Regions from separate parts of the Homo sapiens genome. Here region 1 is linked to region 2. Evidence: fine-mapped expression QTL. A gene starts in region 2. The other region holds a variant in brackets. All regions are shown on one strand. Distances are from middle to middle.

Region 1 (16,468 bases), 220 kb before region 2:
TTCTTTTTTTTTTTTTTATTATACTTTAAGTTCTAGGGTACATGTGCACAATGTGCAGGTTTGTATACATGTGCCATGTTGGTGTGCTGCACCCGTTAACTCGTCATTTACGTTACGTATATCTCCTAGTGCTATCCCTCCCCCCTCCCCCCACCCCACGACAAGCCCTGATGTGTGATGTTCCCCTTCCTATGTCCAAGTGTTCTCATTGTTCAATTCGCACTTATGAATAAGAACACGCGGTGTTTGGTTTTCTGTCCTTGCAATAGTTTGCTCAGAATGATGGTTTCCAGCTTCATCCATGTCCTTACAAAGGACATGAACTCATCCTTTTTTATGGCTGCATAGGATTCCATGGTGTATATGTGCCACATTTTCTTAACCCAGTCTATCATTGATGGACATTTGGGTTGGTTCCAAGTCTTTGCTATTGTGAACAGTGCCGCAATAAACATACATGTGCATGTGTCTTTATAGCAGCATGATTTATAATCCTTTGGGTATATAACCAGTAATGGGATGGCTGGGTCAAATGGTATTTCTAGTTCTAGATCCCTGAGGAATCGCCACACTGTCTTCCACAATGGTTGAACTAGTTTACAGTCCCACCAACAGTGTAAAAGTGTTCTTACTTCTCCACATCCTCTCCAGCACCTGTTGTTTCCTGACTTTTTAATGATCGCCATTCTAACTGGTGTGAGATGGTATCTCATTGTGGTTTTGATTTGCATTTCTCTGATGGCCAGTGATGATGAGCATTTTTTCATGTGTCTGTTGGCTGAATAAATGTCTTCTTTTGAGAAGTGTCTGTTCATGTCCTTTGCCCACTTTTTGATGGGGTTGTTTTTTTTCTTGTAAATTTGTTAGAGTTCTTTGTAGATTCTGGATATTAGCCCTTTGTCAGATGAGTAGATAGCAAAAATTTTCTCCCATTCTGTAGGTTGCCTGTTCACTCTGATGGTAGGTTCTTTTGCTGTGCAGAAGCTCTTGAGTTTAATTAGATCCCATTTGTCAATTTTGGCTTTTGTTGCCATTGCTTTTAGTGTTTTAGACATGAAGTCCTTGCCCATGCCTATGTCCTGAATGGTATTGCCTAGGTTTTCTTCTAGAGTTTTTATGGTTTTAGGTCTAACATTTAAGTCTTTAATCCAACTTGAATTAATTTTTGTATAAGGTGTAAGGAAGGGATCCAGTTTCAGCTTTCTACATATGGCTAGCCAGTTTTCCCAGCACCATTTATTAAATAGGGAATCCTTTCCCCATTGCTTGTTTTTGTCAGGTTTGTCAAAGATCAGATAGTTGTAGATAAGCGGCATTATTTCTGAGGGCTCTGTTCTGTTCCATTGGTCTATATCTCTGTTTTGGTACCAGTACCATGCTGTTTTGGTTACTATAACCTTGTAGTATAGTTTGCAGTCATGTAGCTTGATGCCTCCAGCTTTGTTCTTTTGGCTTAGGATTGTCTTGGCAATGCAGGCTCTTTTTTGGTTCCATATGAACTTTAAAGTAGTTTTTTCCAATTCTGTGAAGAAAGTCATTGGTAGCTTGATGGGGATGGCATTGAATCTATAAATTACCTTGGGCAGTATGGCCATTTTCACAATACTGATTCTTCCTATCCATGAGCATGGAATGTTCTTCCATTTGTTTGTGTCCTTTTTTATTTCGTTGAGCAGTGGTTTGTAGTTCTCCTGGAAGAGGTCCTTCACATCCCTTGTAAGTTGGATTCCTAGGTATTTTATTCTCTTAGTAGCAATTTTGAATGGGAGTTCACTCATGATTTGGCTCTCTGTTTGTCTGTTATTGGTGTGTAAGAATGCTTGTGATTTTTGTACATTGATTTTGTATCCTGAGACTTTGCTGAAGCTGCTTATCAGCTTAAGGAGATTTTGGGCTGAGACAATGGGGTTTTCTAAATATACGATCATGTCATCTGCAAACAGGGACAATTTGACTTCTTCTTTTCCTAATTGAATACCCTTTATTTCTTTCTCCTGCCTGATTGTCCTGGCCAGAACTTCCAACACTATGTTGAATAGAAGTGGTGAGAGAGGGCATCCCTGTCTTGTGCCGGTTTTCAAAGGGAATGCTTCCAGTTTTTGCCCATTCAGTATGACATTGGCTGTGGGTTTGTCATAAATAGCTCTTATTATTTTGAGATACGTCCCATCAATACCTAATTTATTGAGAGTTTTTAGCGTGAAGGGCTGTTGAATTTTGTCAAAGGCCTTTTCTGCATCTATTGAGATAATAGTGTGGTTTTTGTCTTTGGTTCTGTTTATATGCTGGATTACATTTATTGATTTGCGTATGTTGAACCAGCCTTGCATCCCAGGGATGAAGCCCACTTGATCGTGGTGGATAAGCTTTTTGATGTGCTGCTGGATTCAGTTTGCCAGTATTTTATTGAGGATTTTTCCATCGATGTTCATCTGGGATATTGGTCTAAAATTTCTCTTTTTTTGTTGTGTCTCTGCCAGACTTTGGTATCAGGATGATGTTGGCCTCATAAAATGAGTTAGGGAGGATTCCCTCTTTTTCTATTGATTGGAATAGTTTCAGAAGGAATGGTACCAGCTCCTCCTTGTACCTCTGGTAGAATTTGGCTGTGAATCCGTCTGGTCCTGGACTTTTTTTGGTTTGTAGGCTATTAATTATTGCCTCAATTTCAGATCCTGTTATTGGTCTATTCAGAGATTCAACTTCTTCCTGGTTTAGTCTTGGGAGGGTGTATGTGTCCAGGAATTTATCCATTTCTTCTAGATTTTCTAGTTTATTTGCGTAGAGGTGTTTATAGTATTCTCTGATGGTAGTTTGTATTTCTGTGGGATCGGTGGTGATATCCCCTTTATCATTTTTTATTGTGTCTATTTGAGTCTTCTCTCTTTTCTTCTTTATTAGTCTTTCTAGCAGTCTATCAATTTTGTTGATCTTTTCAAAAAACCAGCTCCTAGATTCATTGATTTTTTTGAAGGGTTTTTTGTGTCTCTGTCTCTTTCAGTTCTGCTCTGATCTTAGTTATTTCTTGCCTTCTGCTAGCTTTTGAATGTGTTTGCTCTTGCTTCTCTAGTTCTTTTAATTGTGATGTTAGGGTGTCGATTTTAGATCTTTCCTGCTTTCTCTTGTGGGCATTTAGTGCTATAAATTTCCCTCCACACACTGCTTTAAATGTGTCCCAGAGATTCTGGTATGTTTTGTCTTTGTTCTCATTGGTTTCAAAGAACATCTTTATTTCTGCCTTCATTTCATTATGTACCCAGTATTCATTCAGGAGCAGGTTGTTCAATTTCCATGTAGTTGAGCGGTTGAGTGAGTTTCTTAATCCTGAGTTCTAGTTTGATTGCACTGTGGTCTGAGAGACAGTTTGTTATAATTTCTGTTCTTTTACATTTGCTGAGGAGTGCTTTACTTCCAACTATGTGGTCAATTTTGGAATAAATGCGATGTGGTGCTGAGAAGAATGTAAATTCTGTTGATTTGGGGTGGAGAGTTCTGTAGATGTCTATTAGGTCCGCTTGATGCCGAGCTGAGTTCAATTCCTGGATATCCTTGTTAACTTCTGTCTCGTTGATCTGTGTAATGTTGACAGTGGAGTGTTAAAGTCTCCCATTATTATTGTGTGGGTGTCTAAGTCTCTTTGTAAGTCTCTGAGGACTTGCTTTATGAATCTGGGTGCTCCTGTATTGGGTGCATATATATTTAGGATAGTTAGCTCTTCTTGTTGAATTGATCCCTTTACCATTATGTAATGGCCTTCTTTGTCTCTTTTGATCTTTGTTGGTTTAATGTCTGTTTTATCAGAGACTAGGATTGCAACCTCTGCCTTTTTTTGTTTTCCATTTGCTTGGTAGATCTTCCTCCATCCTTTTATTTTGAGCCTATGTGTGTCTCTGCATGTGAGATGGGTCTCCTGAATACAGCAACACTGATGGATCTTGACTCTTTATCCAGTTTGCCAGACTGTGTCTTTTAATTGGAGCATTTAGCCCATTTACATTTAAGGTTAATATTATGTGTGAATTTGATCATGTCATTGTGATGTTAGCTGGTTATTTTGCTCATTAGTTGATGCAGTTTCTTCCTAGCATCGATGGTCTTTACGTTTTGGCATGTTTTTGCAGTGGCTGGTACCGGTTGTATCTTTCCACGTTTAGTGCTTCCTTCAGAAGCTCTTTTAGGTCAGGCCTGGTGGTGACAAAATCTCTCAGGATTTGCTTGTCTGTAAAGCATTTTATTTCTCCTCCACTTATGAAGCTTAGTTTGGCTGGATAGGAAATTCTGGGTTGAGAATTCTTTTCTTTAAGAATGTTGAATATTGGCCCCCACTCTCTTCTGGCTTGTAGAGTTTCTGCCTAGAGATCCGCTGTTAGTCTGATGGGCTTCCCTTTCTGGGGAACCTGACCTTTCTCTCTAGCTGCCCTTAACATTTTTTCCTTCATTTCAACTTTAGTGAATCTGACAATTATGTATCTTGGAGTTGCTCTTCTTGAGGAGTATCTTTGTGGCATTCTCTGTATTTCCTGAATTTGAATGGTGGCCTGCCTGCTAGGTTGGGGAAGTTCTCCTGGATAATATCCTGCAGTGTTTTCCAACTTGGTTCCATTCTCCCTGTCACTTTCAGGTACACCAATCAGACATAGATTTGGTCTTTTCATATAGTCCCATATTTCTTGGAGGCTTTGTTCATTTCTTTTTCCTCTTTTTTCTCTAAACTTCTCATCTTGCTTCATTTCATTCATTTCATCTTCCATCACTGATACCCTTTCTTCCAGTTGATCGAGTCGGTTACTGAAGCTTGTGCATTCGTCACGTAGTTCTCGTGCCATGGTTGTCAGCTCCATCAGGTCATTTAAGGACTTCTCTACACTGGTTATTCTAGTTAGCCATTCATCTAATCTTTTTTAAAGGTTTTTAGCTTCTTTGCAATGGGTTCGAACTTCCTTCTTCAGCTTAGAGAAGTTTGATCGTCTGAAGCCTTCTTCTCTCAACTCATCAAAGTCATCGCAAAGCTTTGTTCTGTTGCTGGCGAGGAGCTGCGTTCCTTTGGAGGGGGAGAGGTGCTCTGATTTTTAGAATTTTCAGCTTCTCTGCTCTGTTTTTTCCCCATCTTTATGGTTTTATCTACCTTTGGTCTTTGATGATGTTGACAGACAGATGGGGTTTTGGTGTGGAAGTCCTTTCTGTTTGTTAATTTTCCTTCTGACAGTCAGGACCCTCAGCTGCAGGTCTGCTGGAGTTTGCTGGAGGTCCACTCCAGACCCTGTTTGCCTGGGTATCAGCAGCGGAGGCTGCAGAACAGCGAATATTGCTGAACAGCAAATATTGCTGCCTGATCGTTCCTCTAGAAGCTTCGTCTCAGGGGTACCCGGCCGTGTGAGGTGTCAGTCTGCCCCTACTTGGGCTACTCGGGGGTCAGGGACCCACTTGAGGAGGCAGTCTGTCCATTCTCAGATCTCAAACTCCGTGCTGGGAGAACCACTGCTCTCTTCAAAGCTCAGTTGAAAGTGCAGAAATCACCCATCTTCCGCATCGCTCACGCTGGGAGCCGTGGACTGGAGCTGTTCCTATTCGGCCATCTTGGAACCGCCAGTTCATTCTTATCATAACTATCATGTGGGTTAATTTAGAAGTCTAGATAGGCCAGCTGCAGATCAAATGAAATTACATATGAAAGTGCTTTGTGCAGTATAAAGCACTATGAGATTATAGAGTGTATTGGATAATTGTATGCAGTTGCATCCATTAGACTGGCTTTTTCAGATTTCATTTGTAGAGTATCTGTGTGTGTGTGTGTGTGTGTGTGTATTTTTAAGGGATGAATATTTTGAATTATCAAAACAATAATAAAGGTCACTGCAGTGTGTTTATAATAAAGTCCTTACTGAGTTCTTATTAATGTTTTGTCTGACATTTCTTTATTAGGAACTTAAGAGATTTGAGAACTTCATAAAATCTCGTCCTCCTTTTGATGTTGTCATTGATGGTCTCAATGTTGCCAAAATGTTTCCTAAAGTTCGTGAATCTCAACTTGTAAGTATAAGTTTTACTTTGTTATTCCACATCTCTAGAAATATTTATTATACCCATTTATGACCTTCTTGGGGCTCTTAGCTCCTCAGTTTTTCTTCCTCTAAAACTAAGGTCTTCAGGGTGCCACAGTGACCAACTGCATGCTCCCCTAAGATTTACTATTTTCATCACTAATAAGTCGCTCTTCAAGGCTGGGAGAAAACAATTAAAAGTGAGGAATTAAAAGAAAGATTGCAATACAGGGCCAGATTTTCCCGTTTCGTGTAACCTTTAGCTAACCTTCTCCTGGGTCTCTGCTTTCTCTTTGGGGTCGCTCTGTCATTTCCCTTTGGGTCATATCCTTATATTTGAAAATTATCAATATACAATATCAAGAGATATTAATCACTCATTACTCACATTTGTTTTTTCCAAACATAGTATGTTCATAAATTAACCTAAGCAGTTTTTTTTTCTATATGGTAGCCATTTGTTAATTTATAAATGCCCTACTAGTTTCTAATAAGACTATCATTTTTCATAGCTGCAATTAACAGTTACTTTAATCTCTATTTTGTAGATTAAAAAATTGAGGCTAATTTTGTATAGTAAATCTATAGAAAACAGTCATAACATCAAAATTAGATTGTAGAGAGCTCCTGGGTTTCAGACTTGTGGCTCTTATCATTGGCAATCTATAGCCATTCATCTGTAATTAAACTATTTCTTAAAAATTGCTGCCGCTGGCTGGGCACAGTGGCTCATGCCTGTAATCCCCAGCACTTTGGGAGGCCAAGGTGGGTGGATCATCAGAGGTCAGGTGTTCAAGAGCAGCCTGGCTAACATGGTGAAACCCTGTCTCTACTAAAAATACAAAAATTAGTTGGGCATGGTGGCATGTACCTGTAATCCCAGCTACTCGGGAGGCTGAGGCAGGAGAATTGCTTGAACCTGGGAGGCGGAGGTTGCAGTGAGCCGAGGTCGTGCCATTGCACTCCAGCCTGGGCAACAAGAGCAAAACTGTCTCAAAAAAAAAAAAAAAAAAGTAATGATAAAAAGAGTAGTAAAATACATATATATTATTTTTATATTTGAAATTGAAGCATATGTAAAGTTGAGGAACCCTAATGGGAAGAATAGAAAAATTTGCTAGACAGTAAAAAACAAAACAAAACTGAACTAAAAAATATAAACACTGTTGAAAGACAACAAACTGCAAAATGTAGGCCAGGCATGGTGGGTCACACCTGTAATCCCAGCACTTTGGGAGGCTGAGGCGGGCAGATTGCCTGAGGTCAGGAGTTCGAGACCAGCCTGGCTAACATGGTGAAACCCCATCTCTACTAAAAATACAAAAAAATTAGCCGGGCATGATGGCGCACACCTGTAGTCCCAGCTACTTGGGAGGCTGAGGCAGGAGAATCACTTGAACCCGGAAGGCGGTGGTTTTAGTGAGCTGAGATCATGTCACTGCACTCCAGCCTCGGCAACAAAACAAGACTACATCTCAAAAAATAAAAAGTAAATAAAATGTTTACAATATGTGACAAAGAGCAAATTTCCTCACTGTATCAGGACTCATAAGCCTATAAGAAAAAGATGAACCGACTGGGCACGGTGGCTCACGCCTGTAATCCCAGCACTTTGGGAGGCCAAGGCGGGTGGATCACCTGAGGTCAGGAGTTGAAGACCAGCCTGGCCAACATGGTGAAACCCCATCTCTACTAAAAATGCAAAAATTAGCCGGGTGTGGTGGCAGGTGCCTGTAATCCCAGCTAGTTGGGAGGCTGAGTCAAGAGAATTGCTTGAACCCGGGAGGTGGAGGTTGCAGTGAGCTGAGATCTTGCCATTGCACTCCAGCCTGGGCGACAGAGTGAGACTCCTCGAAAACAAAAAAGAAAAAGATGACCCATGCAGTGGAATAGTGGTTTAATTTTACTTATATTTATAGATACACAGATTAAAATATTTATCTTCCAGATTGGTAAATCTTTAAAAGTTGGTAATATTCAGTGTTTAGAATAGTTTGAAGAGGTAGGAAGGATGATATCAGTGCGATATTTTTGGTGGATGATTTGTCTGTAACTTTCATTATCTAAAATACTGAAATTCTGCTTTTAGGAACTGACATAGTAACACTAGTACATAAAGAAATGTATTCAAATGTGTTCATTATTGCATTATTGGTGAGCAGAAAAATCTAAACAACCTAAATATCTATCAATCTTAAGCCCGATACATATTTAAATATTAATTTTTGTGAATAAGGTAAACCAATATGTGCTGCTGTGGAACAGTTGTCAGAATATAAGTGTAAGAAGCAAAATGAAAAACAACATGCTTAGAATTGCTCTATTTATATTAAAAACAAAGCAAAAAATTATCCATGTATAGATAAATGTTTGTTAGATAAGTTTGTGTGTGTATGCCCAAAAAATTTCTAGAAGTTTAACACATACATACATACACACACACACACACACGCACACACACACAATTTAACAGTGTAGTTACCTTTGGGAATTGGGGATAGAATACTGTATAAGAGAATTGAGAGGACTTCTGGTTTTTGTTCACGTTTTTTGAATTTTCTTTTACCATGAGTATATATTACTTAAAAATTTTAAAAATATCAGGAAAGGAAAAAAGTTAAAAAGCATTCTTGATAAATATTTTAAAATAATTTTGTAATACTCTGTGTCTTGTGGATGTACAATAATTTTTAAATCATTTACCTGTTGTTAGACAAATGAGGCTTTCCATTTTTCACTATAATAAGTAATACTTGGAAGACAGCCTCTGTGCATGTTTCATAGGATGTCTTTGGAATAGATTTTGAGAAACTGGACTCTTTAGTCAAAGGGTATATATATTTTTAAAGATCTCACTATATATTGCCAAATTGCTTTCCAAAATGATTGTAGTAATTTATACTACCACCAAAAGTGTATAATGGTGCCTAAATATAACACATTTCTTTAAGGTTACTTATTACATGATTGTTTCAGCCACTCACCTATGCCATGAGTCCGCTAAGTGAAAAGGGCTGGATGGTTTCTTCCCCATTTTTTAGGTCAAACAGATTTTTTTAAATTGTGGGACAAACTTTAATGAAATAGTTCCAGAAAGGGAATATTCTTCACTGTCTTTTCTGTCTTCCTTATCTTTCTCTTAATACAATTACCTATAAGTGTACATAAAGGAAAAATTAGGAATTCGAAGTTCTATAAGTTTTAAGTTTTTTCCATCTTTGAAGAGATTTCCAGACTTTTTGTCTGTGGAGTGATGTACATATTATTTATGCTCTTCCTATAAACTCTCTGCATTATACATTACACATTTTTCTCGGTCCTTTTACATTAATGGTTGATTATATATCTAGTATTCTCTGTAAGTTCATTAATGAGAAGATAACTTTTTTACATTCATTGTTTATGGAATAGCACCATTATCACATATCTTGATCTCAGAGCCTATAGCTTAAGGGTGATAGAGATTAAGGAACTAAAAAAAGAAAGTTCTAGTTGTAAATGTATTTTATTTTCTCAATTTTCAAATGAATCTTTTTTATATTTTAACTTTTCTGAAGTCTATGTTATAATTCATGTCAGTAGAAACTTGCCAGCCACCATGTAGAGATTTATTGGTGACTGTCATTGCCTGGGTGTGTACAGAATTAGCTATACATTGCCACCTCAGTTGAATTAGTTATATTCGTAGCTCCACACACTGTTACACTGTTTAATTTTAACCTAAATCTTTTTTAAAAAACTTTTATTTTAAGCTTGGGGGTACATGGGAAGGTTTGTTACATACATAAACATTTGTCAAGGGGGTTTGTTATACATATTATTTCATCACCCAGGTATTAAGCCCAGTACTCAATAGTTAATCTTTTCTGCTCCTCTGCCTTCTCCCACACTCCCCGCTCAAGTAGACCCCAGTGTCTGTTGTTTCTTTATTTGTGTTCATAAGCTTTTATAATTTAGTTCCCACTTATAAGTGAGAACATGTAGTATTTGGATGTCTGTTTCTGCATTAGTTTGCTAACGATAATAGCCTCCATCTCCATCCATGTTCCTACAAAAGACATGATCTCATTCTTTTTTTGGCTGCATAGTACTCCATGTTGTATATGTGCCACATTTTCTTTATCCAATCTGTCATTGATGGGCATTTAGGTTGATTCCATGTCTTTGCTATTGTTAATAGTACTGCAGTGAACATTCATTTGCATGTGTTTTTATGGTAGAATGATTTCTACTCATCTGGGTATATGCTCAGTAATGGGATTGCTGGGTTGAATGGTAGTTCTGCTTTTAGCACTTTGAGAAATTGCCATACTGCTTTCCACAATGGTTAAACTCATTTACACTCCCACCAACAGTGTATAAGTGTTCCCTTTTCTCTGCAACCTCACCAGCATGTATTATTTTTTGACTTTTCCATAATAGCCATTCTGACTGGTGTGAAATGGTATCTCACTGTGGTTTTGATTTGCATT[T/G]CTCTAATGATCAGTGATATTGAGCTTTTTTTCATATGCTTGTTGGCCACATGTTTGTCTTCTTTTGTGAAGTTTTTGTTCATGTCCTTTGCCCACTTTTTAATGGGATTGTTTTTCTCTTGTAAATTTGTAGTTTTAACCTAAATCTTAACTTTAAATATTTGCCAAAGGTTTCCTGACAATGTAATAAAAGACAGTGGAAGTTGCTTTTCTAAGACTAAGGTACAGAATTTTAAAGCAAGAAGAGGTTGTTATGACTGATTTTTGCATTTTGAAAAGTTGCCACTGAGCCTGCAAACTTCCACCTGCCAATACCTTCCCATAGACATTCAAGCAAAGTTGACTAACTTCCAGAATGGCATAATTCAAAGAAAGAAAAAGCAATAATCAGATGTGAAATACAGGTAAACTCCAGTATTTTTCAACCTTAGTGTCATGCTGTTGGTCCTAAAAGTGTTATAAAAGTGAAGATGAATAGCACAGGCTCTAAGGAGAGTGGTGTGTAATATGTCACCATGAGGATGTACAGAACTGTTATGGCCAAAAGTGATTTAGAACAGAACAGCCTTCAATTCAGATATGAAAGTGTATACTTACATGTTAATTGTGATTCCAAAACAAGATTATGGTATGAACTATATGGATTAATGTACAATTTTGTTGGTTACTGAAATAGTATACTTTTTTGTTTGTTTTTTTGCTTAAAAGTTATTTATTCCTAAACCAGTGTTTCATCTTACAGTTTCTGGAATGTTAATAATGAGGAAGTATGATTACAAGATGTGCTAAGTGGAACTGGGGACTATAAAGTCCCTGGGCTCAAGACACCCCCCAACCTCAGCCTTCTGAGTAGCTGGGACTACATACACATGCCACCAAGTCCAGCTAATTTTTTTTTTTTTTTTTTGTGGAGACGGGGTTTTGTCATGTTGCCCGGGCTGGTCTTGAACTCCTGGGCTTAAGTTGCCTGCTGTGGCCTCCCAAAGTGTTGGGATTACAGGTATAAACCACCATGCCGCCTAGATTTTGCTTTTGGCACAATTGGAGACTTGGCCAAGTCATGTCTCAATTCTTTAATGGTTGTATTTTTTTTTCTTTTTTATTGAGAAATATAATATTTATATAACATAATATTCACCCTTTTAAAGTGCACAATTCAGTGGTTTTTACTGTATTCACAAAGTTTTGCAATCATCACCACTATCCTATTCCAGGACATTTTCATTTTTCTTGAAGAAGCCTCATACCCATTAGCACTAACTCCCAGTTTCTTCCTCCCATTGGTCCCTGGCAACCACTAGTCTTCATTCTGTCTTTTCCTTTTTTCTTTCATTTTCTTTTTTTTTTTCTTTTGAGACAGGTACTTGTGTTGCCCAAGCTGGAGGGTAAGGGTGCAGTCATATCTCACTGCAGGCTTGACCTCCTGGGCTCAAGTGGTCCTCTGCCTCAGCCTTCCAAGTAGCTAGAACTGCAGGCACACACCACCAGGCCCAGCTAATTTTATTATTATTATTATTATTTTTCATAGAAACAGGGTCTCACTGTGTTGCTCAGGCTGGTCTTGAACTCCTGGCCTCAGGCAGTCCTCCCAAAGTGCTGGGATTACAGGACTGAGCCACCATGTCTGGCCTTCTTTCTATCTTTATGAATTTACCTATTCCAGACATTTCATATTTTCACTTAGCATAGTGTTTCAAAGTTCATCCATTTTGTAGCAGGAATCAGTATTTCATTCCCTTTTATTGCCAAATCGTGTTCCATTGTATGGATATGCCACATTTTATTTATTTGTTCTGTAGTTGATGGACCTTTGGGTTGTTACCACTTCTTGGCTATTATGAGTAATGCTACTATGAACATTTAGGCACAAGTTTTTGTGTGGACATATGTTTTCATTTCTTTTGGCTATATACCTAGGAGTAGAATTGGTGGGTCATATGATAACTCTGTGTTTAATCTTTTGAACTTCCCAACTGTTTTCCAAAGCATCTGCACCATTTTGCATTCTCATCAGCTGTGTATAAAGGTTCCAATGTCTCCACATCCTCACGAACACTTGTTATTTGTCTTTTTGATTATAGTCATCCTAGCAGGTGTGAAGTGGTATCTTTTTTTGTTTGTTTTGGTCATGTAAGAAATGCAGGACCTGGTATATTGTAGTTTCTTTGTTTTTTTTTTTTTTTTAGATGGAGTCTCACTGTCACCGAAGCTGGAGTGCAGTGGCATGATCTCAGCTCACTGCAACCTCTGCCTCCTGGGTTAAGCAATTCTCGTGGCTCAGACTCCTGAGTAGCTGGGACTGCAGGTGTGCACCACCATGCCTGGCTAATTTTTTTTTTTCGTATTTTTAGTAGAGACGGGTTTTCGCCATGTTGGCCAGGTTGGTCTCAAAGTCCTGACCTCAGGTGATCTGCCTGCCTTGGCCTTCCAAAGTGCTGGGATTACAGGCGTGAGCCACCGCACCTGGCCCAGTATCTTGTAGTTTTGATTTGCATTTGTTAATGATGCATGATGTTGAATATCCTTTAATATATTTAATGGCCATTTGTATATCTTCTTTGAAGAAATGTATATTTATTTTCTTTTCTTTTTTTTTTTATTTTTTGAGACAGAGTCTCGCTTTGTCGCCCAGGCTGGAGTGGTGCAGTGGTGCGATCTCGGTTCACTACAACCTCCACCTCCTGGGTGCAAGCGATTTTCCTGCCTCAGCCTCCTGAGTAGCTGGGATTACAGGCACGGCCACCACACCTGGCTAATTTTTGTGTTTTTATTAGAGACAGGGTTTCACCATGTTGTTCAGGCTGGTCTTGAACACCTGACCTCAGCCTCCCAAAGTGTGGGGCTTATGGGCATGAGCTACCGTGCCTGGCCAGAAATGTCTATTTCTTTGCCCATTTTTAATTGTTTTTTATTATTATTGTTGAGTTGTAATTTTTTTTTTTTTTTTTGAGACAGAGTCTCGCTCTGTTGCCCAGGCTGGAGTGCAGTGGCATGATCTCGGCTCACTACAACCTCCACCTCCCGGGTTCAAGCGATTCTCCTGCCTTAGCCTCCTGAGTAGCTGGGATTATGGGCGTGCACCACTATGGCTGGCTCTTTTTTGTATTTTTGGTAGAGATGGGGTTTCACCATGTTGGTCAGGCTGGTCTCGAACTCCTGACCTCGTGATCTGCCCGCCTCGGCCTCCCAAAGTGCTGGGATTACAGGTGTGAGCCATCACACCCAGCTAAGTTATAATTTTTAACTATATACCAAATACTAGATCTTTATCAGATATATAATCTCTAAGTATTTTCTCCCAGGCTTTGGATTCTCTTTTCGGTGTTTTGATGATATCCTTTGAGGCATGGAAGTTTTAGTTTTGATGAAGTCCAATTTATTTTTTCTTTTGTTGCCTGTGCTTTTGGTGTCTAATCTAAGAAATCATTGCCTAAGAGCCGGGCGCCGTGGCTCACGCCTGTAATCCCAGAACTTTGGGATGCCAAGACAGGCAGATCACGAGGTCAAGAGATCAAGACCATCCTGGCCAACATGGTGAAACTCTGTCTCTATTAAAAATACAAAAATTAGCTGGGTGTGGTGGTGGGTGCCTGTAGTACCAGCTACTCGGGAGGCGGAGGTTGCAGTAAGCTGAGATCGTACCACTGCACTCCAGCCTGGCGACAGAGCAAGACTCTGTCTAAAAAAAAAAAAAAAAAAAAAAAGTATTGCCTAATCCAAGGTCATGAAGATTAATGCCTATGTTTCTTCTAAGAGTTTTATAGTTTTAGTTCTTGCAGTTACAGAGTTTGCATTGTTAGGGAAATAGTTCAATCTTGAGTACCTGATAAACCAACATAATTTAGAATATAGTGAGATTAAAGGGGACTAACCTTCACCCTATTTATTTGTTTAACCTGTAAATCTAGGCAGACTAAGTCTTACTACTTTTCTTGTAGATGTTTTTCAACTGTAAATTGTATTTTGCTTAAAGTATTTTTGTTGTTGTTGTTTTTAGAGATGGGGCCTTGCCATGTTGTCCAGGCTAGTCTCAAACCCCTGGGCTCAAGTGATCCGCCTGCTTCAGCCTCCCAAAGTGTTGGGATTATGGGTGTGAGCCATGGTGCCCAGCCTGCATAAAGTAATATATTTCCCTGGTTTCAATTTTTCAGAAAAAGAAAAATTCTGAGCTTTTTTTTTTTTTTTTTAAAGAAGAGGGAAGGATTCTGAGTGACTAGCAGATTGATTATATAGCCTGCCTTTTAAGAAGAACAGTTACAGAAACTTGGCAGGGAATTATTAGGTTGATTCAATTACTGTTTCTTGAGCACCCATTCCAAGCCAGATACTGTTTTAAGCTGTGAGGATATGACCATAGATCAATAACAGGAATGCTAGCCACAAGGTTAGGCTAATGATTGTGTTATCTAAACAAGAAATGCATATTGTGTATTCTGTTGTCTATTAACAATGATTCTTGTGTTCGTGCATGACTCTTTTCATTAAAGATTTACTTGAATTGTCAGAATAGAAAATAGTATTTACCCAAAATACATGAGATAAAATTTTTTTAAAAAATAAGCATAGCAGGCTGGGCATAGTGTCTCATGCCTGTAATTCCAGCACTTTGGGAGGCTGTGGCGGGTGGATCAAGAGGTGAGAAGTTCAAGACCAGCCTGGCCAAGATGCTGAAACCCTGTCTCTACTAAAAATACAAAAATTAGCTGGGTGTGGTGGCACTTTCCTGTAATCTCAGCTACTCGGGAGGCTGAGGCAGGAGAATCGCTTGAACCCGGCAGCAGAGGTTGCAATGAGCTGAGATTGCGCCACTGCACTCCAGCCTGGGTGACAGAGTGAGACTCCGTCTTAAAAAAAAAGGCTGGGCGCAGTATCTCATGCCTGTAATCCCAGCACTTTGGGAGGCCGAGGTGAGTGGATCATCTGAGTTCAGGAGTTCAAGACCAGCCTGGCCAACATGGCGAAACCCTGTCTCTATTAAAAATACAAAATTAGCCGGGCGTGGTGGTGCATGCCTGTAATCCCAGCTACTCGGGAGGCTGAGGCAGGAGAATCGCTTGAATCCAGGAGGCAGAGGTTGCAGTGAGTCGAGATCGAGCCATTGCACTCCAGCCTGGGCAACAAGAGTGAAACTCTGTCTCAAAAAGGAAAAAAAAAAAAGTATTGCAAAATGGTCTAGTAACATTTAAATCTCCAGAGTATGTTGTAATTTTGAAGAAACTATGACTAAATTTATTTTATTATTTTTATTTATTTTTATTTTTTTGAGATGGAGTCTTGCTCTGTCACCCAGGCTGGAGTGCAGTGGCATGATCTTGGCTCATTGCAACCTCCGCCTCCGGAGTTCAAGCAATTCTCCTGCCTCAGCCGCCTGAGTAGCGGGGATTACAGGCACGTGCCACCACGTCTGGCTAATTTATGTATTTTTAGTAGAGGCGGGGTTTCACCATGTTGGCCAGGATGGTCTCAATCTCCTGACCTCCTGATCCGACTACTTGGCCTCCCTAAGTGCTGGGATTACAGGCATGAGCCACCGCACCCGGCTGACTGTATTTAAAAGTATTAGTTATGGACCCTTACATACTACTTGAGTCAACTTTTATATAGCACTTGAACCAACATCTCTTCATCATAATCTGTTGCAAGATATTTTAGATTTTCTTGGATTGGATTTCTTTTTTCTTTTTTAATTTAATAAACTTAATTTTCCTAGAGCAGTTTTAGGTTCATGGATTTCTTTTTATGAACAACCATTTCCCAACATGTTATTTGGACTCTTACAAATACTTCTGAACAAAGCCAGGCATGGTAGCATGCACCTGTTATATGATTTGGCTATGTCTCCACCCAAATCTCATCTTGAATTGTAGCTCCCATAATTCCCACATGTTGTAGGAGGAACTTGGTGGGAGATAATTGAATCCTGGGGGCAGTTTCCCTCATACTGTTCTTGTGGTA
Region 2 (16,468 bases):
GTCTCAAAAAAAAAAAAAAAGATTTCAGAGAAGATGAAGTAGGATACCTGTCTGAGTCCCACAGGATTGTTCAGTTTACTGGGGTCTCCTGAGGTCTCAGAACTTGCATTTTCTGCATTATTATATAGTTTCCATGAGACAGTATTTCCATTAACATAAAACATCAGAAATTCAAACCATCCTTTGTAATATTTGCCCAGTTTTGGTAGTATAGCAACAGATACATAAGGAACATATTGACGATTGATGACCTGAAAACACTTTTGTTAATTCCTGTGTGTGCTTGGTAGCTGCTGCTTTTTTTTTTTTTTTTTTTTCCCTGACTGGGCTTTGCTCTGTTGCCCGGGCTGGCACCATCTTGGCTCACTGCAACCTCCACCTCCTGGGCTCAAGCAATCTTACCGCCTCAGCCTCCTGAGTAGCTGGTGTCAGGCCTCTGAGCCCAGGCCAGGCCGTCGCATCCCCTGTGACTTGCACGTATACATCCAGATGGCCTGAAGTAACTGAAGATCCACAAAAGAAGTAAAAACAGCCTCAACTGATGACATTCCACCATTGTGATTTGTTCCTGCCCCACCCTAACTGATCAATGTACTTTGTAATCTCCCCCACCCTTAAGAAGGTACTTTGTAGTCTCCCCCACCCTTAAGAAGGTTCTTTGTAATTCTCCCCACCCTTGAGAATGTACTTTGTGAGATCCACCCCTGCCCACCAGAGAACAACCCCCTTTGACTGTAATTTTCCATTACCTTCCCAAATCCTATAAAACGGCCCCACCCCTATCTCCCTTCGCTGACTCTCTTTTCGGACTCAGCCCGCCTGCACCCAGGTGAAATAAACAGCCATTTTGCTCACACAAAGCCTGTTTGGTGGTCTCTTCACACGGACGTGCATGAAAGCTGGGACTGCAGGTGCGCACCACCACTCCCAGCTAATTTTTTGTATTTTTGCAGAGATGGGGTTTCACTGTGTTGTCCAGGCTGGTCTCGAACTCCTGGGCTCAAGCAGTCTGCACACCTCAGACTTCCAAAGTGCTCGGATAACAGGAGTGAGCCAGTGTGCCTGGCCTGGAAGCTGCTTTATCCCCAGGTTAGGAATATATACCTAGAGCCTGGCTCTGCCATTTACTGGCTGTGTGACCCAGGCTGACTTTCTTTCTTTCTTTCTTTTTTGTTTTTTGAGACAGAGTTTCACTCTTGTTGCCCAGGCTGGAGTGCAATGGCACGATCTCCACTCACTGCAACCTCTGCCTTCTGGATTCAAGTGATTCTCCTGCCTCAGTCTCCCAAGTAGCTGGGATTACAGGCACGTACCACCAGGCCTGGCTACTTTTTGTATTTTTAGTAGAGATGGGGTTTCACCATGTTGGCCAGGCTGATCTCAAACTCCTGACCTCTGGTGATCCGCCTGTCTCAGCCTCCCAAAGTGCTGGGATTACAGGTGTGAGCCACCGTGCCTGGCCTTAATGTATTTTTTTTTGTAGAGATGGGCTCTCCCTATATTTCCCAGGCTGGTCTTGACCTCCTGGGCTCAAATGATCCTCCTGCCTCAGCTTCTCAAAGTGCTGGGATTATAGGCATGAGCCCCCGCACCTGGTCACACTTACCTGGATTGCTGGCCGGTTTGTGGGCCTTGGCCCTATTTTCATGTCAGTGTTCAGAGTCCAGTCCTACTTGTCAATGACTCAGATTGGCTGATGCTGGGTCATACTTCCTGCCCCCTGTGAAAAGGGTGCCTGCCACAGTCACTTGGGGCATGGGATAAGATAATATAGTACTGGCAGGTAAATAGCTAACTGGAATATGAGCTCGGGTCCCGTCTCTCCCACCTGCACTCCGCGCTGGTGCCTGGGCTCAGCTCCCGTGCTATGGGCTTTCATCTCATCACGCCTTTCCATGCAGTTGTCTGTCTCCCTCTCCACCTAAGCAAGGAGCTCTTAGGGGCAGAGGCCATGACTTATTCCTCTTATTCCTGCCCTTGGCAGGAGGCCTGGAGAATAGTTCTTTTTGATGCAAATGAAGGAATGGGTTGGAGAGTCGTACTTCTCTAGGAGGGAAACACAGGTGAGGTCCAGTTTCAGTTTCTGTAATGCTCTCTTTCAATGGGGAAACAGCCTAGGATATTCTTGTCCAGGCACCAGAGGTTGGGGAATGTTTCTTGGGCATGTTTCAGACTGGAGTTCCACAACTCAGACTTTTCTTGCCAAATGAAATTTCAGCTACACTTAAGGCAAGTTAATGAAAATCTGGCAGAAAGCTGGGGGTGGGGGAGTGGGTGGGTACGGGGGTGGGAAGTCTTGGGGAAGGAAGACCCATCTGACAGACTCAATTCTGTCACCACTTAATCACTTCCAGTAGCAACTGAACTTTCCATGCAAATCCACCCAAGCTCCCAGCCTTCTGAATTTCCAGGCCCCAGGGGAAGGTCTTCAGATTGCTCAGACTAGTTTGTTCCCTCTTTAAAGAAAAATCCTTACTTTCTGGAAGGACTTGGTACACGTGGCCGCTACAGGAAATGTATCCTGATGGATAAGGCAGGCAGAAGGAATCAAGGAACTGAATTCAAGGAAGTTGCTGATGTGATATATTATTTCCCCCTCATATCACTTCCCCTTTCTCTAGGCACTCTTAGTCCTACCTGTCCCCACACAATCTGTAACTTCTTGGAGGAAATCAAAGTGCATTAAAGAAGACTCTCCGTCTGCTGGCCTGTTTACTTTGAGATCTTTTGCTCTTGTTTGCTTAGGAATTTGAAGATTTTCTACAGATTAGAATGTTTCCCTTCTAAAATTTTCCTTTAGGGAACTCCAGGCTCCAGTCACCCAACCAACAGGCAGGACAGAAAGATAATAAATTTAAAACAAAAAGAAAAGAAAAGCAGGGAGGGCTGGGTGTGGTGGGTCACACCTGTAATCCCAGGACTGTGGGAGGCCAAGGCAGGTGGATCACTTGAGGTCAGGAGTTCGAGACCAGCCTGGCCAACACGGCGAAACCCCATCTCCACTAAAAATATAAAAATTAGCCGGGTGTAGTGGTGTGCACCTGTAGTCCCAGCTACTCGGGAGGCTGAGGCAGGAGAATTGCTTGAACCCAGGAGGCGGAGGTTACAGTGAGCCGAGATCATGCCACTGCACTCCAGCCTGGGCAAGAGAGTGAGACCCTATCACACACACACAAAAAAAAGGTGGGGGGGGGGATGAGAAATGGGGAGAAGAGCTAGAGAGTAAGGAACCGGGGCAGCCTTCAGTGCTTAACTGGGCCCAGCTACCTCGAGATTTATGCAGATGACAGAACCTTTTCCAAGGTTTAGGACCTAGAAAGAAGAAAAGCTGAAGCCTAGAAAGGTGGGAGACTGGGCCCAAGTGGGTGAGAAGGGGCCCACCCTTGCTTGACCATGGAGGGTGACGCCCCTATGCAAGAGCTGGGCTCTAAGGAGGCTGGGGATGAGGGGGTGGCGCACAGCTTTGTCCTGTTTCTACAACCTAGCACAGAACTAGAGACAGCGTATGGGTGAATTGGCACAAATTTAACCCCTTTACAGAGGGAAGAAGAGTCACATTTGACTGAGTAGAAAGTACTAAGGGCATCGTTCCAAAATTGGGGAGCCAAGTTTCCAACCTTTGTTCTTTTGAGAATGAGGGTGGGGATATCACCCCACTCCCATCTTACCTCTCCCACTTAGCTGAGAGCTGAACCTAACTGACCTAATTCCTGTGGTAGGTCATTTAACACCTGTGTTGAGGTGCTTGGGGATGGACAAGGAATTTCAGGGAAGAACCCGGGCACTTTGACAGAGAATAAGACTGGTAGAGGGACCGCCAGTGCTGGGTTCCGGATGGACTAAGGCTACAGAAATGGAGCAGAGCTGGGCGCGGTGACTCACGCCTGAAATTCCAGCACTTTGGGAGGCTGAGGTGGGCAGATCACCTGAGGTCAGGAGTTCAAGACCAGCCTGGGCAACATGGTGAAACCCTGTCTCTACTAAAAATATAAAAATTAGCCAGGCGTGGTGGCAGGCACCTGTAATCCCAGCTACTCGGGAGGCTGAGGCACAGAGAATCGCTAGAACCCGGGAGGTGGAGGTTGCAGTGAGCTGAGATCATGCCACTGTACTCCAGCCTGGGCGACAGAGCAAGACTCCATCTCAAAAAAAAAAAAAAAAAAAAAAAAAGAAAGAGAAAGAATTGGGGCAGAATTGGCTTTAACCAGTCTGTAGTAACACTCCTTATATGTGGAAGACCACTAAATACTGGCTCCTTTTTGGTCCAAGGTGACCATATTCTTTTGACTTTGACATCGTTTGTGGATCAGGAAAGGGATAATGTAATAATTTTTTCTTAGGTATAAGTCAAAGACATGAATTGCATTTATACACTACTCTGCATTTTCTAGAATGCAATAACTTTACTTTTTCCTCAGAAATGTTTTGGCTGGGTGTGGTGGCTCAGACCTGTAATCCCAGTGCTTTGGGAGGCCATAGTGGGTGGATCTCTTGAGCCCAGGAGTTCCAGACCAGCCTGGGCAACATAGAGAAACCCTGTCTCTACAAATAAAATTAGTCAGGCATGGTGGTGCATGCTTGTAGTCCCAGCTACTCAGGAGGCTGAGTTGGGAGGATCGCTTGAGCCCAGGAGTTTGGGGCTGCAGTGAGCTGTGATTGCACAATTGCACCCCAGCCTGGGCAACAGAGTGAGACCCTATCCCCCAAAAATTTAATAAAAATGTTTACAGAGTACAAATGCAGATTTTTTATATTGTATAGCGGTAAAGTCTGGGCTTTCAGTATACCCATCTTTATTCTTCTCTCTACCTAGGCAAGAGAGCCATTTTAGGGATGAAAACCTCAAGATAGAGCATCTAAGCCAAGTTTCACATTACTGGTTTCTTGTGACATTTGCTCCTGTAGAATCGTCCAGTACAATCAGTAGACTGAACTGATAAGACCCTTCAAGCCTTTATTACTTTTCTACTACAGCCAATAACACATAGATTTAAGAGATGGAATGCTCTTAAAAGATGTTTACCCCAAAACGAGCACGTATGAAATATGTTAACCACCTATTTCTCCTGCAAGGTGACCCTAGACAGGACATTCTCTCTGGACTTGTTTCTCCTGGTATGACATAAAGAACGTTGCGTAACAGCTTGTTTTTCTTTAGCACTACGTGCCTGCCGCTCTGCTATGCATTTTACGTGGATTGTCTTATGTAATTTTCACAACAGCCCAGCTAATAAATGAGAAAACTGAGGCTCAGAGGTGAGCATCTGCTAACAAATGTCAGTGCAGTCCCATTTCTGAGCCTATGTCCTTAGGAACTTCCTGTATTAGTGAGATCTTTCCCAGCTCTATATGAATTCAGCATATTCTTCTTGGCCAAAATAATTTCCTCAACTGGCAATTAGGGTCCAGGAAGTTTAAATCAACGGGATGACAGAATGACAACGGAGAGGTCTCCAACCACAGGCCAAACAGCATGCTTCCACCCCAAGCCTGAGATTGGTAATTTCCTATAACCTTGCAACAGCCTCCCTCCCACACACTGGGCCCAGGGTGCCTGCAAAGCTTTGCTGGAGGCTGGGTGTCAGGTGTGAGAAGCTGCTGGGAGTTACCTCCTCCCTCACACTGCTCCACCTCCACCTCTGCCGGAGGATGGAACTTCAGAACCGGAGGCCCACGGCAGCCTGAAGAAAATGATCAGGATAACTCATTTGTAAAAATCTGTTTAATAAATATACATCATAAAAGTACCAAAATAATTACCAACAATACATTATGTACACCATTTACAGGAGGGTAACACAAACCTTGACAGGTAGTAACTTTTCACCCCACATCACTGAACGCTTAACACTCCTGGCTGTTACATGTCACAGGATACCACTGGGGTCAGTCACTCGAAGCACAATAAATATAAAATGTGGTCCTTCCATGAAATTTTTGATAACCTTCTCCAAAAACCCCACAAAGGTGAGGTTTAAAAGAAGTTTTCTCAGAATTTCAATGATCTTTCTCGTCCCCTACAAAAAGTTCACAAAAGCAACAAAATGAGGGCTGATCCTACCACAATAAGACGTTTTGGGCCAGGCAGTGTGCAGTGTGGATATAAGTACACCCTTTAAATTTTTTCTTCTTTTTTCTTTTTTTAGAAAAATAAAACTTTTTTTTTGTACAAATATACAAGTCCATGTTCTTTCAGCCCCTTTGCGCTCATAACGTCAGACGCTGGCCTCCAAACACACAGTCATCATAGGGCAGCTGAAAACAAGGGGAAAAAAGACACGTTAAGCTTCCGGAGCGGAGCTCTGCCAAGCTACCGGGATGGGGAGGCCACTACTGGAAATAACTCTTGGACTCCATTCTCCATAGCCCAAATATAATGAACTTTACAGGCTGAGAGAGTTTGCCTTTAATGCTTCTCTTTAAAAAAAGAGGGGGGGCAGGTACATTCTTGGGATACTGGTTATGCACAGAAATTTGAGAGACTCATTATGTAGATACCCCTCTGATAAGGAGCAGCTCTAGGGGCCTGGGAGGGTGAAGGGAATGGCACCTCATTAGTTAGAGCGCCGAAGGAGTTCACAGACTCACCTCGTCCTCTGTGAACTCCGTGAACTCTGACTCTGTGTCATAGCTCTCCTCATCCTCACTCTCTGGCAGCATCTGAAGGTTTTCTAGTGTCAGCTGGCCCAGCTGCTGCTGTATCCGGGTGCTTGGGCGGCCCCAGGTGAGCTGGTAGGGAGAATAGCCCTGGTAGGTAACTCTGTTGACATCAGCCCCACACTTCAACAGGAGTGACACCAGGTCAGGATTTTGCAGGTCCACTGCGAGGTGAAGGGCAGTCCGGCCATTACAGGGCTCCTGAAACCAAAAGGAATTTGAGATGCTTATGGCTGCATTTGGAATTTCTGCTCACAACATAAGCACGAGGAGCCTGACTCAGTGCGTCGGGGGCAGGAAGCACCAACCTGAGCATTGACATCAGCACCCAAGGACACCAAAAGCTCCACGATGCCCAGGTAGCCATGGATAGAGGCTAAGTGTAGACACGTGTGGCCTGGAAGAACAAAAGGAAAAAAGTATAACCACCTGTTTCAACCCTCACTCCTTTCACCTATTCTTTTATGGAACAAGTAGTCTTATCTTCTGAATTTTAAGAACCCACAGTCTGGGTTCTGAAAGAACTTTATAAAGGCATCCAATAGGCACTTTGCACACATATTTTCTCAACCTTCCAAATGTTAGGAGTTTAAGCTCTTGCCTGGACTCCTTAAGTTGGCCCACCTGCCCCTTCTCCACGTCACCTGCCCTCCGAGGGGGTGGGGCAGGGCAGGGAGGCAGACATACCATTGTAGTTGGTAGCCTTCAGGATGGAGTGGAGGTGCGGGGTGGTGCAGGACTGAGTCAGGACTCCCACGCTGGCCAGGCAGCCCTGCTCACAGGCAAGGTGTAGGGGGGTATTTCCTCGAAAGTCTCGGAGCTCAGGATCACAGCCAGCTCCCAGAAGTGCCTCAGCAATTTCTGGCTGGTTGGTGATCACAGCCAAGTGGAGTGGAGTCTACGAATGCAAGAGAGACCAGAGAAAGTAAGCCATGGACCAAACCCACACCCCGAGTTCCCCTCAACCCGTGTCTCCTGGTTGGGTGCTGCTCCTCCTAGACAGGGGGGTGGGGAGGGCTGGCAAATAGCAGAGGCTCCAGGTGGGTCATAAAGACCTCACCAAATCAGTGGAATTTCCTTCACTCTCTAGGATGTGGGCTGATGTGAAGTAAAAGGTGAGGGTAAATAGTGCTCAGTGGCCCTGAATTCAGAAAGGATCTGGGGTGACTCTGCTACATCAGCTACGTCCCAGGGTCAGAGAGAACCCGGGCCAGGCAAGCGGCGCACCTGCTGCAGGTTGTTCTGGAAGTTGAGGAAGGCCAGGTCTCCCTTCACCTGGCGGATCACTTCCATGGTCAGTGCCTTTTCTTCATGGATGATGGCCAAGTGCAGGAACCTGTGGGGAAGAGAGGGAAAAACCCCAGGGGTGGTGAGTGCACCGCGTGGGGCCCAGGGAGGCGCGGGCTGCGGGGGATTGCGCAAGGCCGGGGTTTCTGGAGGCCGAGGCCGCGGTGTTTTCCGCGAGGTTATTATGAGCTGAGTGTTCCTGGCAGGCGCCCAGGGACTTTCCGCCCCCCTCCCCCCGCGGCCCCGGCGGGCGCCGGCCAGACCGCCCCGCCCTCCCGCCAGCTCGGAACGCCCTGTACTTCCCCTCCCGGCTGCTCGGCGCCCGCCAGCGGCCAGAAACTCCCGCCCCGCCTTATGCAACCGGGGACTTCGCGTCCCCGCTGCCGCCCCGCCCCCGGCCTAGAGGACGGGTCTGGGGGGAGGGGGCGTGTGGCGACGCTGCCATCCACCAGGGCCCAGCCGCCGCCCCTCCGAGTTGGGCCGGTGCCCCGCGCGGCCCTGCAGCCCTGCAGCGTTCGGGGCGGTGCAGGAGCCCCGGGGTGCCGCGGCGCCCGCCCGGCTGCATCGCTGGTCCCCCGGCTCGGGCTCCAGGCCCGGCGCCTCCCACCCCCAGGCCGCGCGCGTCCCGCCCTCCCGACGACCCCCAGCCCCGGGCCTCCGCCACTTACGAGTCCCCGTCCTCGGTGAGCTGCTGCTTCCAGGGCTCCGAGCCGCGCGGCACCTCCTGCGGCTCGAGGCGGATCTCCTGCAGCTCCTTGACCATCTGCTCGTACTCCTCGTCTTTCATGGAGTCCAGGCCGCTGTCGTGGCGGTCGTCCAGTAGCCGCTCCTTCTTCAGCCCGTCGCGGGGGCCCTCCATGGCCCACTCCTGGGGGCGCTCGGCCGCCTGGAACATGGCGCGGACGAGCTGCGGGCGCTGCTGCGGGTGCGCTGGGCCGCGGGCTGCGCGCTGCTTCCTCGCTGGGGCGCTGGCGGGCGGGACGGCGGCACGGACTGCTGTGGGCTCTGCAGCGCCGCCGCGGCGCCCTATAAACGCTGGCTGGGGATTTCTCTGGGGCGGGGTCAGGCTCGGGGAATTTCCAAGCCAGTCAGACCAGAAAAAGAGAACTGGCTTCGTCCTCTGCTAGGGGGAAAAAGAAGCCTAAACCCTGAGCTGGGGTTCATCGGAGAAACTCCCTGCGATGAGCCACTAGGGTCACGGACAGGGAACTTTTTGATGAGCGCCGAGTGGCTGGAAAGTCCTTCCGACCAGGCCCCCTCCCCCCGGTACTTCCCTGCAGCCTGCACCCTGTAATCCTGTCCCTCTGCAAGTGAGCCTTCTTTCCCTGGGGTTTCCCACGATCGATTTGAATTGGGGTCGTCGGCTGCTGAGATCCCAAGGACGCCGACCTGATGGGCGGTCCCTCTTTGGGGTTTGCCAACCTGCCGGTCCTTTCCGTTTTTTGATCTTTTGAAAACGCAAGAGTGGAAATGATGGCTGGGCGTAGGGATTTGCTTTCCCCAGACTTCTAAGGGGAAGGACGCACTGTGGTTAGGGGGCTGCAGGCCGCGCCGGTGTTTCTGCCTATACCAGGCTCTTTGCAGCAAAGGAACTTTTAGCTTCGCCCCCACCCCCCCACGCACCCCCGCCAGGTAGAAGTTGTGAAAGCTTTGGAGGAGTGAAAAGCCTAAATCCTTGGAGAACTCTCAAATCACTTCCTAGGGATGAACAGCCCTGTTGACTGGGGGAGGGGCAAACGCTCCCTGTATGGGGAAACTGCTGAATAGGACCATGATTTTTTTTGTTTCCCAAGTAAAGCAAGGTGTTAATGTTTGTAGTGGTGGTTGTGGATACCTTGCAATAGCAGAGTAGCTATTGTGTTCATAAGTAGCTATTCGTTTATGCTATCTGACCTACATTGTGCTCCCGCAGAAAAAGGATCGTGAGCCTACTTCTGGGCACCCAAATTCGAGGAGAACTTAGAGAAGGAGGCTGAAGAATGAGTTTAGTTAGTGCCTTAACCGCGATTGGACCTTAAGGACCACTAAGAAAGTAGTTGCCAGGCATCCTGCGGGAGGCTCAAGGTAGTCCCATCCTGCCCGCCCCTCCTTGCTCTCTTGTCCTGGGGGACAGTAGCAGTTGGACCCATTCACGCCACCTGGGTAGAAAGGGGTTTCGGCTCACTATGCTCTGGTTTCACCTGCAGAAATATAATTTATGCTCTCCACTCCACCTCCACCTCCAAGCCTGCAAGCCATGGACTGAATTCATCTACTTGGTAGAATTGGTACAGGCAAAATAAAGCAAACTTCGGTCAGAGCTCTTCAGAATTAGTCCCAGGAGGCCTCTGTAGTTCTGCAGAGATTTCTGGTGATTATTGCAATCATCTTTACCTTGACTGGCCTTGTACTAACCAATCCTTCCCCTCTCTTCGTATCTCCACCCCTCCCCTAATATTAGAATGAAAGAAATCTGACTCGATAGAGAGAGACCAAGTATGAAGGGAAAAAAATTAAAATCAGATAGACCCTCCAGGGTAATAATGATCACATGTTACAATGAAAACTTCCCAGGGATAGACACCATTGTCTCTGCAGGTTTATGATATGCAAATCTACAATGATTGAGGCAAGGTGAAACAGTGACTGCAATGGGACATCTCAATTCCAGGTTCTATCTTTACTTGACTGCACATTAGTTGGAGAGGTCAGTTAACTTTTTTGTGGTATACTTAACTTTTATAATAAGATTAGATTGAATGTTACTTAAGGTCTTTTCTAGCTTAAAAGTCATATTGCTTGTCTACAAATGCATGCCTAACTCTCCTTTGTAAGGGTGACCATGGCTCTTGGAAATGTCAGGGTATAAATTTTTGAAAGAATTCCAGCGCCTTATGTACCACATTGTTCTCAGAACTAATCTTGTAAGATAGATATTGTTCCTACTTCCCTAAAAAGAAACTGAAATGCATAGAAATTTACCCAGGAACCCCTTGGCAGTATATTAATCATTTGGCCAAAGCAGTCTTAGTATTAACACTTTTGAAAACACGCTGTGAAAATCAGACTGACTACACTATAATTTGGAATGTACTCAAAAGTATTTTCTACTCCAACTGTTAGGGAAAATAAAGGGTGGGTGTCCCCTGACCCCCATCTGGGGATAGTCACTTCTTTTAAACAAGTACAGAAACATCAAACTCTAAATGTCCCAATTATAGAGGATACATCAGAAGAAGATATTTGGCTTCAGGTATAAAAATGGTTATAAAAAATAAAAATATCTGAGGAATAAGGTTTTTTTGCACCACCTTCTATGGTTTTATATTTCTGGTAGCCTTCAGGATCTTGGTGTTTATTCCTGATTGTTTTGTGTGACACCTAGTGGTAAGAGTAAGGCACAGGCGTTCCTTGATTTGTCATAGTGCCTTTTGCAAAAATTGGGAGGTGCTGAGCCTTGATGACTTGTCCCTACAGTGGAGATTTCCAAGGAGGTACCTATTGTTTTCCTGCGACTCTGGGAAACAGTTTTGAATAATGTGATCCAACAGGTTTTCTCCCCATCATCTATAGCGCTATATGGTTTAAGTCAACAAACATTACAACGTGGGTGAAAAAGAATATACACTTGGAAATTAGAACCATGAGCAGACTGGGCAGAAGACAACAAGAGGGTCTGGTTTTGATTTAGAAAGACCTTTATGGGCCAGGAGTTGTGGCTCACTGCTGTAATTTCAGCACTTTGGGTTGCTGAGGCAGGAGGATTGCTTGCCACCCAGGAGTTGGAGACCAGCCTGGGCAACAAGGCTAAACTCTTGTCTCTACAAAAAATATAATTAGCAGAGTGTGGTGGCAGGTGCCTGTAGTCCCAGCTACTCCAGAGGCAGAAGTGGGAGAATTGCTTGAGCCTGGGAGGTGGAGTTTGTAGTGAGCCATGATGGCACAACTGCACTCCAGCTTGAGCAACAGACTGAGACCCTGTCTCAAAAAGAAAAAAAAGAAAAAGAAAGACCTTTATGGACCCTTCAGCACTCAGATTTTTCTCCTCCTCATTGTCAAACATTCTAGCTAACATAACCGTTAAAAAAAATGTTAAAACTGTAGGCTGTGCGCAGTGGCTCACGCCTATAATCTCAGCACTTTGGGAGGCTGAGGCAGGTGGATCATGAGGTCAGGAGTTCGAGACCAGCCTGGCCAACATGATGAAACCCCGTCTCTACTAAAGATACAAAAAATTAGTCGGGTGTGGTGGTGCAGATGCTGCTTAGGAGGCTGAGGCAGGAGAATCACTTGAACCGAGGAGGCAGAGGTTGCAGTGAGCCGAGATCGCGCCATTGCACGCCAGCCTGGGCAACAGGGTGAGACTCTGTCTCAAAAAACAAAACAAAACAAAACAAAATACTTTAGATAACTGATTTTTAATGTTATTTGGCCTTTTTAATGCATAAGGCAAAATAATAAGTTACACCTCAAAGCTGCTTTGTATTTTGGCCCAGGACGCAGCCGTAGGAAATGACAGGACGGCCAGTGATGCTCCAGGAGCACCCCCATGGGAAAAGGAGCATCGCCAGGGCCTGGTTTGGCTGCAGGCACTTCAGGCACTCCTCCTGCATGGAACAAGCACAGTATGGACAAAACCTATTGCCTGAAGTGCCATGGAGAGAGTCTACAAGTTCAGCCAGGTGGTCCAAAATCCTCAGGGCAGGGTGGCCTGTGTCAACTGGCCTGGCCAATTAAAACTAAATTGTTTTGGCTACAGCAAATTCAACTCTGGAATCAGGCTACCTATTGCTCAGTGCAGCTAGGCTGGAAGAAAGACGAGCCATGACAGAGTTCCTGAAGAGCAAGGCAGGTGCACTCCCAACTGGCAGCCCCACTGTGAAATTCTAAATATTCTGCTTTCAGTCTCAGGTTGTCTTCTTTCTTGCTATCGTGGTAGCAACTGTCTGCATCCTCTTCAGAACAGGGAGCCCCCAAGCTATGGATCTTTTCCCATAGAAAAACAAGGCTGGGGGCGGTGGCTCCGACCTATAATCCCAGCACTTTGGGAGGCTGAGGCGAGCTGATCACCTGAGGTCAGGAGTTCAAGACCAGCCCGGCCAACATGGTGAAACCCCATCTCTACTCAAAATACAAAAATTAGCCAGGCGTGATGGCACATGCCTGTAATCCCAGCTACTCGGGAGGCTGAGGCAGGAGAATCACTTGACCCTGGGAGGTGAAGGTTGCAGTGAGCTGAGATCGTGCCATTGCACTCCTGCCTGGGCAGCAGAGAGAGACTCTGTCTCAATTAAAAAAAAAAAAAAGGAAAAACAGCTGTCAGAACCTTCATTTGTAGTGAAGTGAAAATAAGACCGTCAAATCCTTAATGTGTTTCCTTTGCTACAAATTCTGCAATTTAATGGAGATCAAAGCTTTAAAGGATCTCAAACTCAAAATACTTACGCATAGGGAGCAGGCAGATTTCACAGATGAGTGAAACAGACCATTTGAGTCTGAAAGGAGTGGGATCTCCAACAGCTTAGGTCAGGGTGTGTACTTCCCTCATACTTAGCTCAGACAACTTTTGGCATGTAGCACCTTCAGTTCAGTAGTGACCTTCTATTGTTAAAGAAATAAAAAAAATTGGCCCAGCTCCGTGGCTCATGCCTGCAATCCCAACACTTTGAGAGGGTGAGGCAGGAGGATCACTTGCGTTTAGGAGTTTGAGACCAGCCTGGGCAACATAGTGAGACCCCATCGCTATAAAAATAAAAATAAAAAAATTAACCAGGTGTGGTGGCATACACCTGTAGTCGCACCTACTTGGGAGACTGAGGTGGGAGGATTGCTCGAACCTGGGACGTTGAGGCTACAGTGGGCCATGACTGTGTCACTGAGCTCCAGCCTCAGCAAAAGAGTGAGACCTTGCCTCAAACAAACATAAAAACATTATGAAAACTAAACACAATGCATTTCTGCATCTATTGGCTAAACAGAGCCTATAAGCTCTGAGTTTACAACCTCTTTTTCAGCCAAGGTATGATGTTTTAATTGTGCTTTGCAAGAGGCACAACCTTCTGCTCTTGGCATCATGGGTTCTCTGCTCCTGTGTAACAGGAGACTGGGACAGTGTGTCCATCCATGATGCGCAGGGCTGCTCCTGCCAGGCAGGGTTAGGATTAGGGGCTCTAACCTCTGAAAAGTGAATTTTTCCTCCCTCAAACCAAGTATTTATTTGTTTTGTTTGTTTGTTTTTGAGACAAACCAAGAGTTTTGCTCTTGTTGCCCAGGCTGGAGTGCAATGATGTGATCTTGGCTCACTGCAACCTCTGCCTCCCGGGTTCAAGTGATTCTCCTGCCTCAGCCTCCTGAGTAGCTGGGATTGCAGGCACCCGCCACCATGCCCGGCTCATTTTTTGTATTTTGGGTAGAGACAGGGTTTCACTATGTTGGCTAGGCTGGTCTCAAACTCCTGACCTCAGGTGATCTACCCGCCTTGGCCTCCCAAAGTGCTGGGATTACAGGTGTGAGCAACCATGCCCGGCCTGTTTGTGTTTTTGAGACAAGGTCTTGCTGTGTCACCTAGGCTGGAGTGCTGTGGCATGATCACAGCTCGCTGTAGCCTTAATCTCTTGGGCTCAAGCAATTCTCCCACCTCAGTCTCCCATGCAGTGGGACCACAGGCACATGCCACTGTGCCTGGCTAATTTTTTTTGAGACGGAATTTCATTCTTGTCACCCAGGCTGGAGTGCAATGGTGCAATCTTGGCTCACTGCAACCTCTGCCTACCAGGTTCAGACGATTCTCCTGCCTCAGCCCCCTAAGTAGCAGGGATTACAGGAGCCTGCCACCATGCCCAGCTAATTTTTTGTATTTTTAGTAGAGACAGGGTTTCACTGTGTTGACCAGGCTGGTCTCGAACTGTTTACCTCAAGTGATCTGCCTGCCTCGGCCTCCCAAAGTGCTGGGATTACAGGCATGAGCCACCACACCCGGCTGTGCCTGGCTAATTTTTTAATTTTTTGTAGAGATGGGTCTCCCTGTGTTGCCCAGGCTGGTTTTGAGCTCCTGGGTCCGAGCGATCCGCCCATCTTCACTTTCAAAAGTGCTGGGATTACAGGTGTGAGCCACTGCACCCTGCCCCAAAGCAATTTTTAAATGCTACAGTGTAAAATAAGCATAATAAGTCCAACAAAGTTCTGATTTTTCTCACAATGACTACTTACGTTGTTTTAAGCAATCAGATGACTTCACTAAACATCTCCTGAGGTGTGCCTGCTCTGCTGGTGCCCTAACTGCATGCCCATCTGGCTCTTGGGTAACCTGCTGCGAGGGAAGGAGGAGGCCTGCACGTGTCACCCGTGGCCAAAATTACTGGCTCTCCCTTTTCGTGGCTTGTTGGCAGTAACCAAGTAATATTTATAGGTGTGTAGCATTGTTCATGGTCTGTTGTGTTCAGGGAGAAGTTGTTGGATCAGGAAGGTGGTAAAGGCTTAAGGCAGTTTCCCCTGCATGCCGCTGTATTTGCTATTTTGTCTTGGGTGTAAATTCATTCTGAGTTTAGTCAGGGTATGAGGATACTTAGCACTAGGGAACTTCCACACAAGAGCCTGGTACTTGGCAGGGGATGAGACATAAATGATATGAGGCCCTTGTTCTTTGGCACTGAAATTAGGTGAGGAGCTCATGATCCTTCTCAGAGGGGGCCTAAGCTGTATCCACCAACGGAAACCACATGGAGAGGTAGATCCTTTCCCCCCTACGGTCTAAGGTCTTGGGAATCATTTAGGAAAAAGGAAAACAGAATCAGAGCTGCTAAGAGATAGATTCATATTACAGAGTAAGGATTTAGGAAGCTTGTTCCTGAGCCCTTTCTTGTAAGTGCTAAAATAATGCCTTTCTCAGACTTCCTTTTAGAGCCTCTATTATCTGGAGTAAAACACCGGAGTGCTTGGATGAGTATTAGAAATTGAGATTTGTCTCTGAGGCTATTAGTGGGGAACGGTACCACAAAAATATAGTTTCTGAAAGTTTTTCTTAGGTTGATTTTTTTTTTTTTTTTTTTTTGAGACAGGATCTCACCCTGTCACCCACGATGGCGTGCAGTAGCACGATTATTGCTCACTGAAGTCTTGACCTTCTGGGCCCAAGCAATCTTCCTGCCTTAGCCTCCCATGCAGCTGGGATTACAGACATGTGCTACCACACCTGGCTAATTTTTGTATTTTTAGTAGACATGGGGTTTCGCCATGTTCCTGGCCTCCAACTCCTGATCTCAGGTGATCCACCTGCCTCAGCTTCCCAAAGTGCTGGGATTATAGGCGTAAGCCACCACACCTAGCCTGGCCAGGTTTGTTTGTTTATTTATTTATTTATTTTGACACAGAGTCTCGCTCTGCTCCCCAGGCTAGAGTGCAGTGGTGTGATCTTGGCTCACTGCAACCTCCGCTTCCTGGGTTCCAGTGATTCTCATGTCTCAGCCTCCCTAGTAACTGGGACTACAGGCGCCTATCACCACGTCTAGCTTATTTTTGTATTATTTGTAGAGATGGGGGGTTTTGC

Evidence for each region.
Region 1: its variant is fine-mapped to the expression of NFKBIA in whole blood (TOPMed, PIP 0.97).

The regions. Positions count from the first base shown.
Region 1 is chr14:35,174,748-35,191,215 of GRCh38, forward strand. It overlaps PRORP (protein only RNase P catalytic subunit), which reads left to right. Exons shown (of 8, transcript NM_014672.4): 5 at 5,923-6,030. PRORP-PSMA6 (PRORP-PSMA6 readthrough) reads left to right here. Exons shown (of 15, transcript NR_182666.1): 5 at 5,923-6,030. Among named protein-coding and RNA genes, the nearest start is that of PRORP, 60 kb to the left of the region's middle. The variant T/G (reference allele first, on the strand shown) is at 10,514.
Region 2 is chr14:35,395,806-35,412,273 of GRCh38, forward strand. NFKBIA (NFKB inhibitor alpha) reads right to left here and starts at 8,944. Exons shown (of 6, transcript NM_020529.3): 1 at 8,613-8,944; 2 at 7,885-7,993; 3 at 7,345-7,555; 4 at 6,966-7,054; 5 at 6,589-6,858; 6 at 5,708-6,255. The coding sequence starts at 8,839. The coding sequence ends at 6,208. RefSeq lists enhancers at 6,312-7,185, 7,436-7,745, 7,776-7,825, 8,930-9,801, 9,006-9,405 and 1 more and silencers at 8,026-8,615, 8,766-8,935.